Homo sapiens: one gene and its partners. The protein of the gene in region 4 purifies or fractionates together with the protein of the main gene of each other region. This does not show direct contact. Each region holds a gene or a part of one and is shown on either strand. Other genes may lie near its edges.

The links. Proteins that work in one complex are often made in the same cells at the same time.
Region 1: the proteins of KDSR (region 4) and MGAT1 purify together in Homo sapiens (affinity purification with mass spectrometry; one large-scale study listed by BioGRID and IntAct). This does not show direct contact.
Region 2: the proteins of KDSR (region 4) and FUT8 purify together in Homo sapiens (affinity purification with mass spectrometry; one large-scale study listed by BioGRID and IntAct). This does not show direct contact.
Region 3: the proteins of KDSR (region 4) and NDUFB5 purify together in Homo sapiens (affinity purification with mass spectrometry; one large-scale study listed by BioGRID and IntAct). This does not show direct contact.

Annotation. Positions count from the first base shown.
Region 1 is NC_000005.10:180,791,838-180,796,653, reverse strand, and holds part of MGAT1 (alpha-1,3-mannosyl-glycoprotein 2-beta-N-acetylglucosaminyltransferase), read left to right. Parts: intron 1-778; exon of another isoform or gene 779-1,773; intron 1,774-2,287; exon of another isoform or gene 2,288-2,387; intron 2,388-3,556; 5' UTR 3,557-3,682; coding exon 3,683-4,816. UniProt on the Homo sapiens protein: Initiates complex N-linked carbohydrate formation. Essential for the conversion of high-mannose to hybrid and complex N-glycans.
Region 2 is NC_000014.9:65,611,383-65,616,198, forward strand, and holds part of FUT8 (alpha-(1,6)-fucosyltransferase), read left to right. Parts: intron 1-4,595; coding exon 4,596-4,711; intron 4,712-4,816. UniProt on the Homo sapiens protein: Catalyzes the addition of fucose in alpha 1-6 linkage to the first GlcNAc residue, next to the peptide chains in N-glycans.
Region 3 is NC_000003.12:179,617,947-179,622,762, forward strand, and holds part of NDUFB5 (NADH dehydrogenase [ubiquinone] 1 beta subcomplex subunit 5, mitochondrial isoform 1 precursor), read left to right. Parts: intron 1-468; coding exon 469-575; intron 576-4,816.
Region 4 is NC_000018.10:63,329,207-63,334,022, reverse strand, and holds part of KDSR (3-ketodihydrosphingosine reductase), read left to right. Parts: intron 1-2,121; coding exon 2,122-2,241; 3' UTR 2,242-4,816.

The DNA.
Region 1 (4,816 bases), on a different chromosome or scaffold from region 4:
GGCAACAGACAGAGTGAGACTCTGTCTCAAAAAAAAAGAAAAAAAACTGAAACTCTTTTGTGCATCACTCTTTTCTTCCACATAAACTTTCTTAAAAATCAAATATGGGGATATGGCCCACAGCTCTGAGTAGCTTCATCCATCTGTATGGCCCCAGCTGGGCACAGCAGTAAGGCCAACTGAAACGACGTTTGCCCTGAATTTCTCGGTCACTTGACAACATGTATCTAATTGATACATAATATTTGAGCCCTGATATAATAGAATTTAATTGCACAGTTACATGGAAACAGACTTGACGTTTCTGAGAAGACTGATGTCCTGGCGTGGTGGGGGTGGTTGGTTTCTAGGAAGAAGACAAGTGGTTGGTGGTGAATGCTGGCAGGGGCTGGTGAAGTCTCCCCAGGAGGGAGACAGAATCCATGTCTCTTTAGAGGCCCTTCAGGATCAGCCCTTTTATACCAGATCTGCTGGTTTGAGAGCCCAGAGCCTCAGAGGTTAGATCTGAGGCCCAAGGTTTTGGCCAGGATTAGAGAGTAGCCTGTGAGGCAGAGGGCAACTGGCAGAGCTGTTGGTGTAAGAGGGTGCACGCCTGAAGCTTTGGGGTGTAAAGGGTAGACCAGAGGCAGGACAGTCAAGGAGTTATGGTCTGGAGTGGCAGCTGGCTGGGAATTGGGGAGTGTTTCAGATCCTTTCAAGTAATGTGGTCTGGTAGAGCTTGGAGGATTGGTGGGACCATGCCTTTTTCTCACTGGTTTGTGTCCTGGTTCCTTCCCAGAGCCTGGCAGAGAGCAGGTGTGTGATACACGTCGTCAGGTGACTGACCGAGGAATTCAGGGCAAACAGATCATCTCAATTTGCCTTGCTGATGTGCCAGCTGGGATTACGCTGATGGATGAAGCTCTTCAGAGCTATGGGCAATATCTACATATTTGATTGTCAAGAAACTTCGTGTGGAAATAGCTTCAAACTTACACAAATTGCAAGAATAAAAAATAGTATAAGGATATTCGTACACACTCTCTTTACTCAGATTCACCTGTTAATATTTTGCTCCATTTGCTCTCTATGTGTGCAGAGTATGTTTTTGTTCTGAACCATTTGAGAAGTTGCATCTATCCTGGTCCTCTACTTCTCAATACTTCAGTGTGTATTACCTAAGAATTGGAATTAATCAGTTATCACTGATACTTTAACCTACTGTCCATATTCCACCTTTGTCATTTTACCCAATAACGTCTTTTTAAAAAAAGTTTTTTGAGGTTTCATTGACATACAATTGATATCAATATGTGCAAAGAACTGCATATAAAGTGTACAATTTGATAAGTTTTGACATATATGTGTGTGTGTGTATATATATATATATATATATACCTGTAAAAGTATCACCACAATCAAGATAATAAACATATCCACCCTTCTAGAAGCTTCCTAATGCCCCTGTGTAGTAACTACCCTACTGCCCTTCTCTGCCTCCATCCCCAGGCAACAACTGATCTGCTTTCTGTAATATAGATTAGTTTCTATTTTCGGCAGTTTTATGTCAATGGAATCACAGTGTATGTGCTCTTTTTTGTTTTTCCCAAAAAGACCCATATTGTGTAATTATTTGGAGATTGTGTTGTGTATGTCAGTGGTTTATTCAGTTTTATTGCTGAATATTATTCCATTCTATGAGTAAACCACAATTTGTTTATCTGTATTTCCCTGTTGATGGGCCTTTGGGTTATTTCCAGTTTTGAGTGATTATGAATAAAGTTACCATCAACACTCCTGTGTAGGTTTTTGTAGGGACATGGCTGAAAGTAGAAAGAAATGGGGCATGCAGGAGAGACTGGGCTTGGTTATAACAGCCTGTTATCCCTGGGGAACTAGCTCACTCACCAGAGGACGTTAGGAAGGATCTGCCCCTGCCCCCCTTGTGATCCAAACACCTACCACTAGACCCCACCTCCGGCAGCACCACCACACAGGGGATCAAATCCCAACATGTGTTTCAGAGAACAAACCATATTCAAGCTATAGCATAGCTACGTAATTATTATAACACTATTAATAAGACCATCTTTGCCTTGGGAATTTTAAGTAGCACCTTTATTACATATTAGATTTTTTTGTGTAATGAGTCTGTTTCTGGAGCTTAAATTCTATTTCACTGGATGGTCTGTTTATTTATGTACCAGTACCACGCAGTTGTAATTATGGAGGTTTTGTAGTATGCCATATATATATATATATAATAAAAAAAAATTTTTTTGAGACAGAGTCTCACTCTCTTGCCCAGGCTGGAGTGCAATGGCACAATCCAATCACAGCTCACTACAGCCTCAGCCTCCCAGACTCAGGTGATCCCATCTCAGCCTCCTGAGTAGCTGGGACCACAGGTGCGTGCCACCATGCCCAGCTTTTTTTTTTTTTTTTTTTAATTGTTACTTGTAGAGACAGGGTCTCCGTGTGCTGCCCAGGCTATTCTTGAACTCCTGGGCTCAAGTGATCCTCCTGTATTGGCCTCCCAAAGTGCTGGGATTGCAGGTAGGAGCTACTGCATCTGGCCAGTATGCAGTATTTTCATATCTGGTAGGGCTGAGTCCCTCCTCACAGCTTATTTTTATTGTTTTCCTAGTTTTTCATGTGAACTTTACTGTCAGTTCGTCTAGCTCCATAAAAAGGTATTTTTATTGGGATTTTTGATGATGCTGAAATGTCCTGACCAAGAACAAGGGATATTCAGATGTTCTTTTGTGTCTTTCAGGAATGATAGTTTTGTTCACATAAGTTTTGAATGTTTAAGTTTATTTAAGTTTATTTCTAAATATTTTCTCATTTCTCTGGCTTTTGTAAGTAGGGTTTTCTCATCCATGTTTTCTTCTCATGAGTTATTTGTGGATATGAAGGCTATCCATTAGTATATGTTGATTTTTATATTACACTTCCTTGCTCAGTTCATTATTGATTCTTTTTGAGTTTTCCAGGCATATTCTCACAAGTAAAGATAATAGAAATAGTTTGCTTCCTTTCCACTTCTGCTTTGAATTTTTTTTTCTTGGTTCATTTGCATTGGCTGCTTCCTCCAGCAAAATGTTAAATAACCCTGGAGATGATGGGCAACTTCGTTTTGCTCCTGACATTCGTGGGGTGCCTCTGGTGCTTCCCTGTTGGTAAGGGGTTAACTGTAGCCCTGAGGTGGGACATTTGATTTTAAAAATCAGTCATCTTGGGGCGCTTAGGTTAGAGGAATGGTAGGCAGATGCTGTCACTCCTTGCCCCTCCCCTCCTCCTTCCCACCTGGAGGGGAAATGAAATCTGACAGGTAGAAAGAGGGGAGTTGGGGTTCTTTTTCTCTCTCCCTCCACCAGCATCACTCTCTGCCTCTCCCTCAAAAATACGTTCCTGGGTCAGGATATATGTTGACTCCCTAGAGAGCTCTGGAGTCAACCTCCTGGCCTTCCTCCACCCTCACTCTTGGCCTTTTCCTGCCCCCATTTCCTCTACCTGTGGGGCATGGAGCCACGAGCCTTTGTGTGACGGTTTGCTTTCTCTCTCCTGTCTTTAGGTGCATGGCTGCCTCCTAATCCCATAGTCCAGAGGAGGCATCCCTAGGACTGCGGGCAAGGGAGCCGGGCAAGCCCAGGGCAGCCTTGAACCGTCCCCTGGCCTGCCCTCCCCGGTGGGGGCCAGGATGCTGAAGAAGCAGTCTGCAGGGCTTGTGCTGTGGGGCGCTATCCTCTTTGTGGCCTGGAATGCCCTGCTGCTCCTCTTCTTCTGGACGCGCCCAGCACCTGGCAGGCCACCCTCAGTCAGCGCTCTCGATGGCGACCCCGCCAGCCTCACCCGGGAAGTGATTCGCCTGGCCCAAGACGCCGAGGTGGAGCTGGAGCGGCAGCGTGGGCTGCTGCAGCAGATCGGGGATGCCCTGTCGAGCCAGCGGGGGAGGGTGCCCACCGCGGCCCCTCCCGCCCAGCCGCGTGTGCCTGTGACCCCCGCGCCGGCGGTGATTCCCATCCTGGTCATCGCCTGTGACCGCAGCACTGTTCGGCGCTGCCTGGACAAGCTGCTGCATTATCGGCCCTCGGCTGAGCTCTTCCCCATCATCGTTAGCCAGGACTGCGGGCACGAGGAGACGGCCCAGGCCATCGCCTCCTACGGCAGCGCGGTCACGCACATCCGGCAGCCCGACCTGAGCAGCATTGCGGTGCCGCCGGACCACCGCAAGTTCCAGGGCTACTACAAGATCGCGCGCCACTACCGCTGGGCGCTGGGCCAGGTCTTCCGGCAGTTTCGCTTCCCCGCGGCCGTGGTGGTGGAGGATGACCTGGAGGTGGCCCCGGACTTCTTCGAGTACTTTCGGGCCACCTATCCGCTGCTGAAGGCCGACCCCTCCCTGTGGTGCGTCTCGGCCTGGAATGACAACGGCAAGGAGCAGATGGTGGACGCCAGCAGGCCTGAGCTGCTCTACCGCACCGACTTTTTCCCTGGCCTGGGCTGGCTGCTGTTGGCCGAGCTCTGGGCTGAGCTGGAGCCCAAGTGGCCAAAGGCCTTCTGGGACGACTGGATGCGGCGGCCGGAGCAGCGGCAGGGGCGGGCCTGCATACGCCCTGAGATCTCAAGAACGATGACCTTTGGCCGCAAGGGTGTGAGCCACGGGCAGTTCTTTGACCAGCACCTCAAGTTTATCAAGCTGAACCAGCAGTTTGTGCACTTCACCCAGCTGGACCTGTCTTACCTGCAGCGGGAGGCCTATGACCGAGATTTCCTCGCCCGCGTCTACGGTGCTCCCCAGCTGCAGGTGGAGAAAGTGAGGACCAATGACCGG
Region 2 (4,816 bases), on a different chromosome or scaffold from region 4:
TGATTTTCTTTCTTTTTTTTTTAAAGAACCAGATTTTAGTTTTCATTGGTTTTTATCTATTTTTCTTTTTCTCCATTTCATTGATCGTCTCTCTGATCTTTATTACTTCGTTTCTTCCACTTAATTGGAGTTTCATTTGCTCTTTTTTTCTTAGTTTCTTAGGGTAGACGCTACAATATATAATCTGCAGTAAATCTCATTCTTTATATTTTTCATTTCAGACATTATAGTTTTCATCTGTAGTAGTTCAACTTGGGTATCTATTAAAATTTTTTCTTTCTTTCTTTCTTTTTTCTGAGATGGAGTCTCACTCTGCCACCCCGGCTGGAGTTCAAAGGCGTGATCTCGACTCACTGCAACCTCTGCCTCTTGGGTTCAAGCAGTTCTCCTGCCTCAGCCTCCTGAGTAGCTGGGATTACAGACGTCTGCCACCATGCCTGGCTAATTTTTGTATTTTTCATAGAGACAGTATTTCACCATGTTGGCCAGGCTGGTCTTGAACTCCTGACCTCAGGTGATCTGCCTGCCTCAGCCTCCCAAAGTGCTGGGATTACAGGCGTGAGCCACCGCACCTGGCCTATTAAAATTTTAACATCTTTTTTATATCTTCCCTGTCTCTAACTTTTGAACATATGAAATACAGTCATAATAACTGTTATTTCTATGGTGATTCTAACATCTGTGTCAGTTTTGAGTTGGTTTTGATAGATTGATTTCACTCTTCTTTATGGGTTGTCTTTTCTTGTTTTTTTGCAAGCCTGGTAACTTTTGTGGATTCCAGACATGAATTTTACCTTGTTTGTTACTAGAAGGTCTTGTATAATTTACAAATATTCTTAAATTTTGTTCTGGGATGTAGTTATGTTATTTTAAAATAATTTGATCCTATTTTGTCTTTTAATAATTGTTAAGTGGGACCTAAGCAATGTTTGGTCTGGGGCACATTTTCCTGCTATTGAGGCCAAATCCTTCTGAGCATTTTACCCAGCATCCCATGAATTACGGTTTTCTAGTCTGGCTGATAGGATCAGGAACTGTTTCTACCTAATCTGTATGAATGCCAGGTACTACTTCCTCTAATCCTTTTAGAGAGTTCTTTCCCCAGCCTGAGTAGTTCCTTATGTGTGTGTGCTGATGAGTACTCTGCTAATTCCAAAATGGTACCTTTGCAGATTTCTGGAATTCTCTGTCCTCTACAGTTCTCTCTTATTCAAACTCTGTCTTGGTCTTTTTAGACTCTTAGCTCCATTTCTTCAACTCAGTGAATGTACTGGCTCCATCTGCATTTCCCCTCCATACACTGTGGTCTGGAAACTCTCTGAATGCAGTAAGCTGGGACAGTCACAGGGCTATCATCATTTGTTTTCCTTCTCTGGTGATCACTGCCCTTTGTTGCCTGATTGCAATTTTATTAGATCATTGTTTAATACATCTAACCTGGATTTTGAGTTGTTTCAGGCAGGATGGTAAATGTCTTGGCTAGAAGTGGAAGTCTTATATATCTGTATCTTTGGCATGGTGAATGTAAGAAAGCATTCTGTTCCCTAAGTATTCAGAAAAGAGACTGTTCGTGCATATTGACTCTTTTCTGGATGGAGTTTGGAAAGAATAGTTCTCCTGTATTTTTTTTTTAGAGTGATTTTTCCAGTAATTTTCTTTTCCAGTTTTTTTTTTCACAGTTGGATTAGATTATTAGGCAATATGGATTACTAATTCCATTATGTTTTATTAGAATTAGATTGGAACTCTTTGTGGAAAGCTACTGAAAAGATCACATGCTATTTTTTTCATGGCTGTTTTGCCTCTGATGTTTATTCCACCAATATTTGAAGAAAGAGATAAAAAGGAGAACCTAGACATAATCTTTCTATTGTCAATTTTTCTATCACTAACATATGTTCTGAAAAAGGACATTCCTGTCCTATAGTATATTGCTGCCAAAATAAATCCCAAGAGATTGAAGTTTTATTCTATTTTCAAATTGTTTCCTAGAAACCAGCCACCTAATTCACAAAGAGATTAAGAGCCAAGTCTTAGAAACATAACTTTAAAAAACTATATACCAGGACATGCCTCATTTGTGAATGTATGCGTGCTCATAAATTGGGTAATTGTGCACCTAACTACTGTATTCATTTTTTATTATTCGCTTTGTGCTTATACAAATGAAGGCTTTTTCATTCATATTCTGTAGCCTTGGACACTCATGATTGGAGGATAGTTACTTTTTATGCTCCTGTTCAATGTTAATGCGTACAATTTTACAGGAAATTATAAAATGTCTCCAATTACTTTGGTATAGCTGTAACAATAGCTACTTTATTAAACGTGTTCTGAAGTAGTGTAGGTAATTGACAGTTAATTTGGCTTTATCAGGTTATATAGAAAATGTTAGAGAAGCTATAAAAAACCTTTCGTATCAGAGTGTTTGCCTCAAAAGGCTATGTTGGCTGGGCGCCGTGGCTCATACCTGTAATTCAGCACTTTGGGAGGTTGAGGTGGGCGGATCACTTGAGGCCAGGAGTTTTAGACCAGCCTGGCCAACCCAATGAAACCCCGTCTCTACTAAAAATGTAAAAAAATTAGCCAGGGATGGTGGTGCATTCCCGTAATCCCATCTGCTCAGGAGGCCGAGGCACGAGAATCATTTGAATCTGGGAGGCAGTGGTTGTGGCAAGCCAAGATCCCATCACTGTACTCCAGCCTGGGTGACAAATCGAGACTGTGTCAAAAAAAAAAAAAAAAGACTGTGTTGACATCTGAATTTAAGTTCTGCCAACTATAATTTAAAACTTAAGTTCCCTTAAACTGGTCATGATGGTAAGAATAGATAGCCCAGACTTTTTGAGATTACAGCTCATCTCTAAAATGACAAAGCTCAGATATAATAGTAGCCTTCATAAAATTTATTGCCAGACACTGCTAAGTACTTTTACAGACATTTCCTCATTTAAATAGACTTTGAAAGAAAAATCAGCTATTTAATCTTTAGGACAATTTTGTAAAAGGATCAATATATGTACGTATTAATTTCCTATTGCTGCTTTGACAAATACCACAAACTTTATGGCTTAAAACAACATAAATTTATTCTCTTAAGAGTTTTGGAGGCCAGAGATCTGAATTGAGTTTCACTGCACTGAAACCAAGATGTCAGGAGGGCTGGATTCCCTAGAGAAGCTCTAGGAGAGCATCTGGGGTATTTTTGTTTGTTCGTTCGTTTGCCTTTTCCAGTTTCTAAAAATGTCTTCCTTGCTCATGGTTGCTTCTTCCATCTTCAAAGCTAACAGCCACATAACCTTTTCCTCTTCTGTAGTAAAATCTTCTTCTACCTTCCTCTTATGAAGACACTTGTTATTACAAAATGGCTCACCTAGATAATCCAATCTCAAAATCCTTAATTATATATTCAGAGTTTCTTTTGCCATAAAGAGTAATATTCACAGATTTCATGATTAGGTTATGGATATCTTTGGGAGACCTTTGTTTAGCCTACCACGAAATTGTATTATGTACATCAAAGTGGAGTACAGTATACTGCCATAAGTCACATAAAAACAAAACAGGAACAAGCACAGTTTGGAATTAAGTTGAACAGAGAGGTTGATAATATAAGTAAGAGATCTTGGATTGCTGTTCTGTGTTCCAGCTTTTATATTATTGACTGATTGTTTTTGTTGCTGATAGAAATGAATAGAACAATGATCTTCAATTTTTTATTTTTATTTTTTCGAGACAGGGTTTCACTCTGCTGCCTACACTAGAATGCAGTGACATGATCATAGTTCATTGTAATCTTGAACTATGGTTCAAGGATGGTTCAAGCCATCCTCCTTCCTTAGCTTCCTGAGTAGCTGGGACTGCAGGCACACACCACCATGTGCCCAGCTAATGTTTTCATTTTTGTAATGATGGGGGATTGCTGTGTTGCCCAGGCTGGCCATGAACTCCTGGGCTCAAGTAATCCTCCTACCTGGGCCTCCCAAAGTGCTGGGATTATAGGCATGAGTGGCTACACCTGGCCCAATTTTTTTCTAATATGTTTTATCTTCTACTCTTGTCTTTCTTTTTTCTATATAAGACCAATGCTTAGTAGTCTAATGTCATGAATTGAAAGACAGATTTACATAGTCTGATATTATAATTAATTTAGAAATACATTATATTTGATGTTTGAGCATGTCCTTAGACACATGTTCAGATATGCTTCGTTATTCCCTTTAAGCCTTTTCTTTACTTTTTCCTTCACTTTTGTTACTCTCAATGCTAATGAATAATTGACCTCTTTGCCACTGATCATGGTACTCTGGGGATGAAAGATTTTTAGGAAACAGCTCTAGAGGTTTGTTAACTCCTAGAAGATCATAGATTTCTGAAGTAGATTAATATTTTCTATTTTTCGTTATTATCATTTCATTGTCCATTTCACTGGTTAATCCTATACCTTTGAAGAGAAAATTCCATTTGGTACTACTTTTGTGCTATATGGTTCAACAACTTATGGAGTTTACAGTATAAATGTTTTAGAAAGTGAGCTTGTATTTTGTTGCACAGTTTGAAAGCTAAATGTTTACATTATCTTCCCTAAACTACAGGATACCAGAAGGCCCTATTGATCAGGGGCCAGCTATAGGAAGAGTACGCGTTTTAGAAGAGCAGCTTGTTAAGGCCAAAGAACAGATTGAAAATTACAAGAAACAGACCAGAAATGGTAGGTGATTATACAGTGTTTTCCCCTCCTCAGTATATGGGCTTTAGCACAGATAATTGAAAGTTTCCTTTTATCAAAATGTTGGAAATGCTACAACTCTCTATT
Region 3 (4,816 bases), on a different chromosome or scaffold from region 4:
TATATCCCATCATGTTTTATTATCTGAATGAATTATATTTTAAATACAAATCTTAAACCATTAAATCTTAAGGCAGACCTTACACTTAGTTTGTTTATGCTAACTGGTGCAAAGAGCTCCATTTTTGAATTACCAAAACCTGGGTTTGTCTTCTGAATCTGCCACCTAAGATACTCAGCATAGTGTAATGGAAAAGAGTACACAGCTTTGGAGTCAGACAGACCTGGTTTGAGTCCAGGTGCTGCCATTTATTAGCTACGTAACTTTGTGCAATTCACTTATCTTTAAAATGCGGACAAAAATAGTATCCACCTCATCTGTTAAAATTATTTTATATATAGGTATATTAGTTACATAGTAGATGTTACTGGTTTATCTAACTGAAATGATCATTTTAAAGAATAGTCAACTAGAAAAGCAAAGTATTATTCAGAAATGGACTAATATTAAACGAATTTTCTCTTGTAGCATCCCATATCAAGATGGATTGCCCGTAATTTCTATGATAGTCCTGAAAAGATATATGAAAGAACAATGGCCGTCCTTCAGATTGAAGCTGAAAAGGCTGAATTACGGTAGGAAAAACGAGGGGGTAGGTGGGAAAGAAAATCTTCCTAAGGTAGCAAACCACCAGAAAAAATTAATAAAACTATGAATATTTCAGCACTATAGGATACTTTATGTAAAAGGATAAAGATACGTCCAGATGCAGTGGCTCACACCTGTAATCCCAGCACTTTGGGAGGCTACAGAAATTAGCCGGGCGTGGTGGTACGTGCCTGTAATCCCAGCTACTCAAGAGGCTGAGGCAGAAGAATCACTTCAACCTAGGAGGCAGAGGTTGCAGTGAGCCAAGACCATGCCACTGCACTGCAGCCTGGGTGGCAGTGTGAGACTCCGTCTCCAAAGGAAAAAAAAAATGGATAAAGATAGAATTAGCTTGTTTGGAGTGAAAACTATAAACTGGTGACAAGGAGACTATTAGGAGATATGTGTCAGATTAAAGAGTTCTTTTTTAAATTTTTGAATTTTTTTTTAGAGTGGAAGTCTTGCTCTGTTGCCCCAGCTGGGAAGCAGATGGATGGGTATATCCATCCAGTGAAATATATAATGTGGCCATTAAAAAGAAAGGGATATATGCTGTTATGGAAAGCTATGTGGATTTTCTTTCTTATACATTATATTTTATATACATATTAAAAAGCTAGACACATATATTTTTTCCCCTCTCTTATGGTGCTGAGTGCCTGTTTTTTTTTTTTTTTTTTTAATTATACTTTAAGTTTTAGGGTACATGTGCACAACATGCAGGTTAGTTATGTATACATGTGCCGTGTTGGTGTGCTGCACCCATTAACTCATTATTTAACATTAGGTATATCTCCTAATGCTATCCCTCCCCCCTCCACCCACCCCACAACAGGCCCCAGTGTGTGATGTTCCCCTTCCTGTGTCCATGTGTTCTCATTGTTCAATTCCCACCTATGACTGAGAACATGCAGTGTTTGGTTTTTTGTCCTTGCGATAGTTTGCTAAGAATGATGGTTTCCAGCTTCATCCATGTCCCTACAAAGGACATGAACTCATCATTTTTTATGGCTGCATAGTATTCCATGGTGTGTATGTGCCACATTTTCTTAATCCAGTCTATCACTGTTGGACATTTGGCTTGTCCAAGTCTTTGCTATTGTGAATAGTGCCACAGTAAACATATGTGTGCATGTGTCTTTATAGCAGCATGATTTATAATCCTTTGGGTATATACCCAGTAATGGGATTGCTGGGTCAAATGGTATTTCTAGTTCTAGATCCCTGAGGAATCGCCACACTGACTTCCACAATGATTGAACTAGTTTACAGTCCCACCAACAGTGTAAAAGTGTTCCTATTTCTCCACATCCTCTCCAGCACCTGTTGTTTCCTGACTTTTTAATGATCACCATTCTAACTGGTGTGAGATGGTATCTCATTGTGGTTTTGATTTGCATTTCTCTGATGGCCAGTGATATGAATATTTTTTCATGTGTCTTTTGGCTGCATAAATGTCTTCTTTTGAGAAGTGTCTGTTCATATCCTTTGCCCACTTTTTGATGGGGTTGTTTGTTTTTTTCTTGTAAATTTGTTTGAGTTCATTGTAGATTCTGGATATTAGCCCTTTGTCACATGAGTATATTGCAAAAATTTTTTCCCATTCTGTAGGTTGCCTGTTCACTCTGATGGTAGTTTCTTTTGCTGTGCAGAGCTCTTTAGTTTAATTAGATCCCATTTGTCAATTTTGGCTTTTGTTGCCATTGCCTTTGGTGTTTTAGACATGAAGTCCTTGCCCATGCCTATATCCTGAATGGTATTGCCTAGGTTTTCTTCTGGGGTTTTTATGGTTTTAGGTCTAACATTTAGGTCTTTAATCCATCTTGAATTAATTTTTGTATAAGGTGTAAGGAAGGGATCCAGTTTCAGCTTTCTACATATGGCTAGCCAGTTTCCCAGCACCATTTATTAAATAGGGAATCCTTTCCCCATTTCTTGTTTTCGTCAAGTTTGTCAAAGATCAGATAGTTGTAGATATGCGGCATTATTTCTGAGGGCTCTGTTCTGTTCCATTAGTCTATATCTCTGTTTTGGTACCAGTACCATGCTGTTTTGGTTACTGTAGCCTTGTAGTATAGTTTGAAGTCAGGTAGCGTGATGCCTCCAGCTTTGTTCTTTTGGCTTAGGATTGACTTGGAGTGCCTGTGTTTTTTTAACCAGTCCCCTATTGCTGGTACTTGGGTTCTTTCCAAGTTTTTTGCTATTGTACATACTGCTGTGTTTAATTTTCCCCCATATTGTTTGCATATTTATGTAACATATCTGGAAAATAAATTTCTGGAAGTGGCATTAATAAGCCAAATAGCACATGCTTTTAAACTTTGGGTAGATATTGCCAAACTCTTCTCCAAAAAGTTGCACCAGTTGTTTCTTCATCAGTTTCCATGTTTCAGTTTTCCATGTTTCTCTGTAATGGAATTTATCAAAGTGAAACATTTTTGTTGATAGGGTAATTGAAAAATGTTACCTCATCATTTCAATTTTATATTTCTTTGTAAAGTTGAGTAGTTTTTTTAATATCTATTAATTGTGTGTATTTCTTTTCTTTCTTCCCCCCGCCCGAGACAAAGTCTTGCTCTGTTGCCCAGGCTGGAGTACAGTGGCATGATCTTGACTCACTGCAGCCTTGGTCTCCTGGGTTCAAGCTGTCCTCCCACCCAAGCCTCCCTAGTAGCCAAGATTACAGGTGCATGACACCATGCCCAGTTAATTTTTGTATTTTTTGTAAAGACATAGTTTCACCGTGTTGCCTAGGCTGCTCTCAAACACCTGGGTTCAAGCGATCCACCCTCTGGGCCTCCCAAAATGCTGAGATTACAGGCGTGAGCCACTGCACCTGGCTATGTGTATTTCTTTCTCTATATATTGTCTTTTGGCAGTGTAGAAATTTTTGCAACACAGAAGTGTTTTTACATTTTCAGGTAACAAATCTGTAATAGTAACTAATAATATTTTCTTTTTCTTTTTTTTTTTTTTTTGAGACAGTTTTGCTCTGTCTCCCAGGCTGGAGTACAGTGGCGTGGTCTCGGCACACTGCAACCTCTGCTTTCCGGGTTCAAGCGATTCTGCCTCAGCCTCCCGAGTAGCTGGGATTACAGGCGCCCGCCACCACACCCCGCAAATTTTTGTATTTTTAGTAGAGACCGGGTTTTGCCAGGCTGGTCTTGAACTCCTGGCCTCAAGTGATCTGCCTGCCTCAGCCTCCCAAAGTGCTGGGATTACATACGTGAGCCACCATACCTGGCCGCTAATAAATTTTTGAGTACATTTAATATCAGTGTTTTAATTACTTTCTATGTATTTACTCATTTATAATTATTGTCAGGTTTGACAGTCTTTAGCTTTTGGGATTTTGTGTCATACAGAGATCTCTGATGATAATTAAATCAGTAAATATGTAATTCCAAAATTATTTTTTTTAATATTCACCATGTCTTCCTTTTCTTTTTTTGAGACAGGATCTCGTTCTGTTGCCTCAGCTGGAGTGCAGTGTTGCAGTCATGGCTCACTGCAGCCCCGACCTCCTGGGCTTAAGCAGTCCTCCAGCCTCAGCCTCCTGAGTAGCTGGGACCACAGGTGCTGGCCACCATGCCCAACTAATTGTTTAGGGGGGTTTTTTTGTTTGTTTGTTTGTTTTGGTAGAGATGGGATCTTGCTCTGTTGGCCAGGCTGATCTCGAACTCCTGGGCTCAAGCAGTCTTCCTGCCTTGGCCTCCCATAGTGCTGGGATTACAGGCATGAGTCAGCTTGCCCAGCCTGTTTTTGTCTTTTGTTTTGTTTTTGTTTTTTTTTTATTTGACATGGGGACTTGCTCTGTTGCCCAGGCTGGACTTGAACTCCTGAGCTCAAGCAACCTTCCCACCTCAGCTCCTGAGTAGCTAGGACTACAGACGTGCCACTGCTCCCAGCTTACTATTTTTTAATGAAATAGGAAGGTGCTACACATGCTTATTTTATACCTTGCTTTTTAAAAACATAACAGTATATGTAGCATCTCCTCCCATGTTACTACATACAGATTCTCCTTATTCTTTTTAGTAGGTACATAGTAGTCCATTATGTGGATGAATCATAATTTAACCAGTTAGTCTCATGTTGATAAATATTTTAATTACGGTTTGGATAGTTATACTCTAAAGAGTAGACAAGAAAGAGAACGTTATTTAATCCTTCAAAAAAGATCAATAAACATAACCTCACAAAGGCATATAATCTCCCATAGGGTAAG
Region 4 (4,816 bases):
GAGCTGAACAAATGCATGAATTCTTTTATGTTTTAATTTTTGGGCTGGCATGGTGGCTCACACCTGGCGTGTTGTCCTGGACTCCCCTGCTTCTGTCCCTCACGTCAGAGATCATTGTCATCCTTGTCACTCAGTTCTTCACATTCTTCCATTCTCTGCAATTCTGGCAGTGCTTCTGGAGCCCAGGCCTGGGTTGCCGCAGCAGGCCCCCTGCTTGAGTTACACACTTTTTGAGCCAGAGGTTGTAAACGATTCCCATGGGCCTGTAAAGCAGTTTTGTTGGGTCCATCTGGTGTGAGTGTGTGTGTTTAAGATTTTAAAATAGTTTTAAAATTAGGTTTTATATAAAAGGTCCAGATTTCAGACTTTTCTTGGAAAATCAGAAGGTTTAGCTGCACAGAGTCTGCATTCTTACCTGGCAGTCATCAGCAAGCACAGGTGGCAGCTGCTCCTGAGGGAGGAGCACAGTCCCTGCAACCACTATGGTCTGCAACCCCCTGCTCAGGCCCCCTGGATGCGTTTGAGTGTACCCTCACATTTTCCACACCAGTTGTTTCTAAACTGCAACTATACATTGCATGAAAACATTCAATGACTCCTTGATACCATCAGGATAAAGCTTTAAAAATTCCATTGCACCTGAGTATGGTGGCTCATGCCTATAATCTCAGCACTTTGGGAGGCCAAGTCAGGAGGATCGCTTGAGCTCAGGAGTTTGAGATCAGCCTGGGCAACATAGTGAGACCCTGTCTCTACAAAAAAATGTAAAAGAAAAGAAAGCCAGGCGTGGTGGTGTGTACCTGTATTCCTAGCAACTGGGAGACTTCTGCTTGAGTCCAGAAGTCTGAAGCTACAGTGAGCTGTGATCATACTCCTGCACTCCAGCCTGGGTGACAGAGCAAGACCCTGTCTCTAAAAAGGATTTAAAAATTAAAAAAATTTCCATCGCATGCCATAAACCACCTGATCTCCTACCCCACGTACCTTTCCAGGCTCTTTTTTTTCTTTCTTTCTTTACCCATCTTCTTCTTTTTGGAATCTTCTCTGTGTCCTGCCAACTTCTAATCCTTCAGGTCTCACCTTAAATATTGTTTTTTCCGGAAGATCCAAGGACTGGCTTCAGTGCTCTGAGGGTGTAGGGAAAAAAACAAAGGGATTTTTCTATTCTCTTTTTTTTTTTTTTTTTTTTTTGAGACGGAGTCTTGCTCTGTCACCCAGGCTGAAGTGCAGTGGCACGATCTCAGCTCACTGCACGCTCTGCCTCCTGGGTTCACACCATTCTCCTGCCTCAGCCTCCCCAGCAGCTTGGACTACAGGCGCACACCGCCACACGCGGATAATTTTTTTGTATTTTTAGTAGAGATGGGGTTTCACCGTGTTAGCCAGGATGGTCTCAATCTCCTGACCTCGTGATCCACCCGCCTCGGCCTCCCAAAGTGCTGGGATTACAGGCGTGAGCCACCGCGCCCGGCCTGATTTTTCCATTCTCTTATGCACGGGGACTCATGCCTATGGTCCCAGCTGCTTGGGAGGATGAGGCAGGAGAATCCTTTGAGTTTGGGAGGTCAAAGCTATAGTGAGCCGCGTTCATGCCACTGCACTCCATCCTGAGCAACAGGATATCAGTAATCACGGGTCTCAACCCTGAGGCAGTAGTTTCAATTTTACTTGTCTTTCCAGCCTGAGAATAAGCTCATTGAGGGCAGGGACTGTGTCTCTCACCACAGTGTTCACAGCACCTAGTATAGGGTCTCGCTTTCATGCTCAGAACATAAATTGCAAACCAAAAAAGCCTTGATTGTAGTTTGGCTATTTGAGATGCTGCAGTGGGTCTTTTTAAAGCTATTATAACCCTAAGACTGCAAGCAATATATATTTTATTCTGCTTATGGTTTGAATTTATTAATTGGACAAATATTTTGTTATGTATCTGGGCTGTCCAGCGGTGCAGAGCACACACATTCTGTTCTCACAGCTTACTGACATTTACAGAGTTTTCATTATATTCATCCTTAGAGCAGACTAGAAGATTTGTCTTAGAAACTGTTTGTTAGAGACCTAGGTACCTTGAAATAGTCTTGTACCGTTGGATGCACTAAAAGCTCTCTCTTTATCTTGCAGGTGGTCACCATGGGCCTTTTCCGCACTATTGCTTTGTTTTACCTTGGAAGTTTTGACAGCATAGTTCGTCGCTGCATGATGCAGAGAGAAAAATCTGAAAATGCAGACAAAACTGCCTAATCTTCTTACCCCTTGGAAGAAGACTGTTTCCAAATAATTTGAACAGCTTGCTGCTAAATGGGACCCAATTTTTGGCCTATAGACACTTATGTATTGTTTTCGAATACGTCAGATTGGACCAGTGCTCTTCAGGAATGTGGCTGCAAGCAAGGGGCTAGAAGTTCACCTCCTGACAGTATTATTAATACTATGCAAATATGGAATAGGAGACCATTTGATTTTCTAGGCTTTGTGGTAGAGAGGTGAAGGTATGAGAATTAATAGCGTGTGAACAAAGTAAAGAACAGGATTCCAGAATGATCATTAAATTTGTTTCTATTTATTCTTTTTTGCCCCCCTAGAGATTAAGTCCAGAAATGTACTTTCTGGCACATAAAGAAATCTTGAGGACTTTGTTTAAACCTTCCATAAAAAAACAATTTTCGGTTTCTCGGGTTCTCTCTCTCTCTCTCTCTGTCTCTCTGTCTCTCTGTCTCTCTGTCTCTCTGTCTCTCTGTCTCTCTCTCTCTCTCTCTTTCTTTCTTTGTGTATTTTATTCAAGATGAGTTGGACCCATTGCCAGTGAGTCTGAATGTCACTGACAGCCCTGTGTTGTGCTCAGGACTCACTCTGCTGCTGGTGGAAACTCATGGCTTCTCTCTCTCTTTGATCCCATAAAGCTACGAGGGGGACGGGAGAGGGCAGTGCAATGGGAAGTAAAGAGATATTTTCCAGTAGGAAAAGCAATGCTTTCTTGTCTTTAGACTCAAATGCTTAGGGAACGTTTCATTTCTCATTCATGGGGAAAGGCAGCCTCCTTAAATGTTTTCTGAAGAGCGGTAAAATCTAGAAGCTTAAGAATTTACAGTTCCTTCAATAACCATGATGACCTGAAGTTCACCTATCCCATTTTAGCATCTACTTGTTTTTCCCATCTCTTCCTTTCCAATTTTGCTTATACTGCTGTAATATTTTTGTAAAAAAAAAAAAAAAGGAAAAAAAAGACCAGCTAAAATTTTCGACTTGACTTTTTAACTTAACTCATGAATTAATTAAAGCAAATGAAAAAATTAAAAAGTGTGACTTTTTCTCGGAGCATATATGTAGCTTTTAGGAAAGGCTGATGATGGTATAAAGTTTGCTCATTAAGAAAAAAAGACAAGGCTGATTTTGAAGAGAGTTGCTTTTGAAATAAAATGATCACCTGTTCTTTATGTGACTCTCCCACTGAACCTGCAGACATTATTTTTATACCACATGCTAAGGAAGCCCACTCATCTAACTCTGTAGCCCTGGAAACCCTCTTGGCCCCTGAATGTTGTTTCCAGGTTATAGGATCTGTGTTCATTAGTGGATTTTGACAGCAAGTGCCTCTGATGAGTTTTAGCCAACATTCCCCGTTGCATCCTGCTCATTGTTCACACTCCTCTGACTTGAGGAGAGCTGCCTTCACCTTGATCTTGTAACCTGTCTTCCTTGCATATACGGTAGCACATTCCAGATCACTTCGGTGAGAAAAGACCTCTGTTTTTGAAGAGGAAACTTTCTTAAATTGTAAAATAAAACTTAAAAAACATAAAAACTCTATACAAAAATTGAAGACCTAAAAATTATAGCATACCTTTTTTTTGCTCTTGAGTTTTTGAAGCTCTTGACTTTAAATGACTTAACTTTTTAAAAAATAAGATGTTTTATGGCTTTAACCCATGTTTTTATTAAGATCTGAGAATAGCATATTTTAAACACTGATAGATACAGAAGAAATTATTATTTAATATATAAATTGCTTGGAATGATTTCATTGCAGCTTGTAAGGATGGGTTGATGCCAGAATGGTTTCATAAATCTTTCAGTCTTACAGAGCCAAAGTTTGCAGATTATATCGAGTTGCGTTGTGCAGCTGCTAAAATGGAATCATAGCTTTTTATAATTTGCAGAAAACAATTGCATTAATGTCTGGATGTTTCTCAGTTTTATTCTTTTCTCATAAATGTTCCTCGAATGTTGGCACCTTCTACTGCTGATCTATATTAGAATCTAGTCCAAGAAAGTGTCTGATTTAATAACATTAAATAGTTATTTCAATATATTTTTTCAAATTATCCTCATAGAACCTGTTGCCTCCAGTGAGATGGTAATCTACTACCCGAATAAATTTAAGAGCACCTGTTGAGAGCCCCTGTTTTGCGGTAGAAGACAATTGTCCCTATCCCAATTTCCACTGAAATATGAGAGCAGATTTGCAGAGACCATCATGTCAGAGAAGAAATTTCCTTGTCAGAGATGTTAAAGGGCTACAGTCCCTTAGCAAAGAAACTTCGAAATCTAAGTTGGTTTGTGTTTTTCTAAATTTGATACCGTAATTCATTTGGCAGCAAAATCTGACTTGAACTGATGTGAGAGTATTGTACTTTATATTTATGCTACTTCATTGTGACTTAATTTTCCCTGAAGAAATATCCATGGATTTGATTATAGGTTTTCCCTTAGATGCTGTGGAGGTGTTTTGTAATATTCAAAATATGCCCATATTGCCTTTTTAAAACCCCAAAGATTATGAATTCTGAAACACATCCAGCCCAGCGGGTTTTGGATA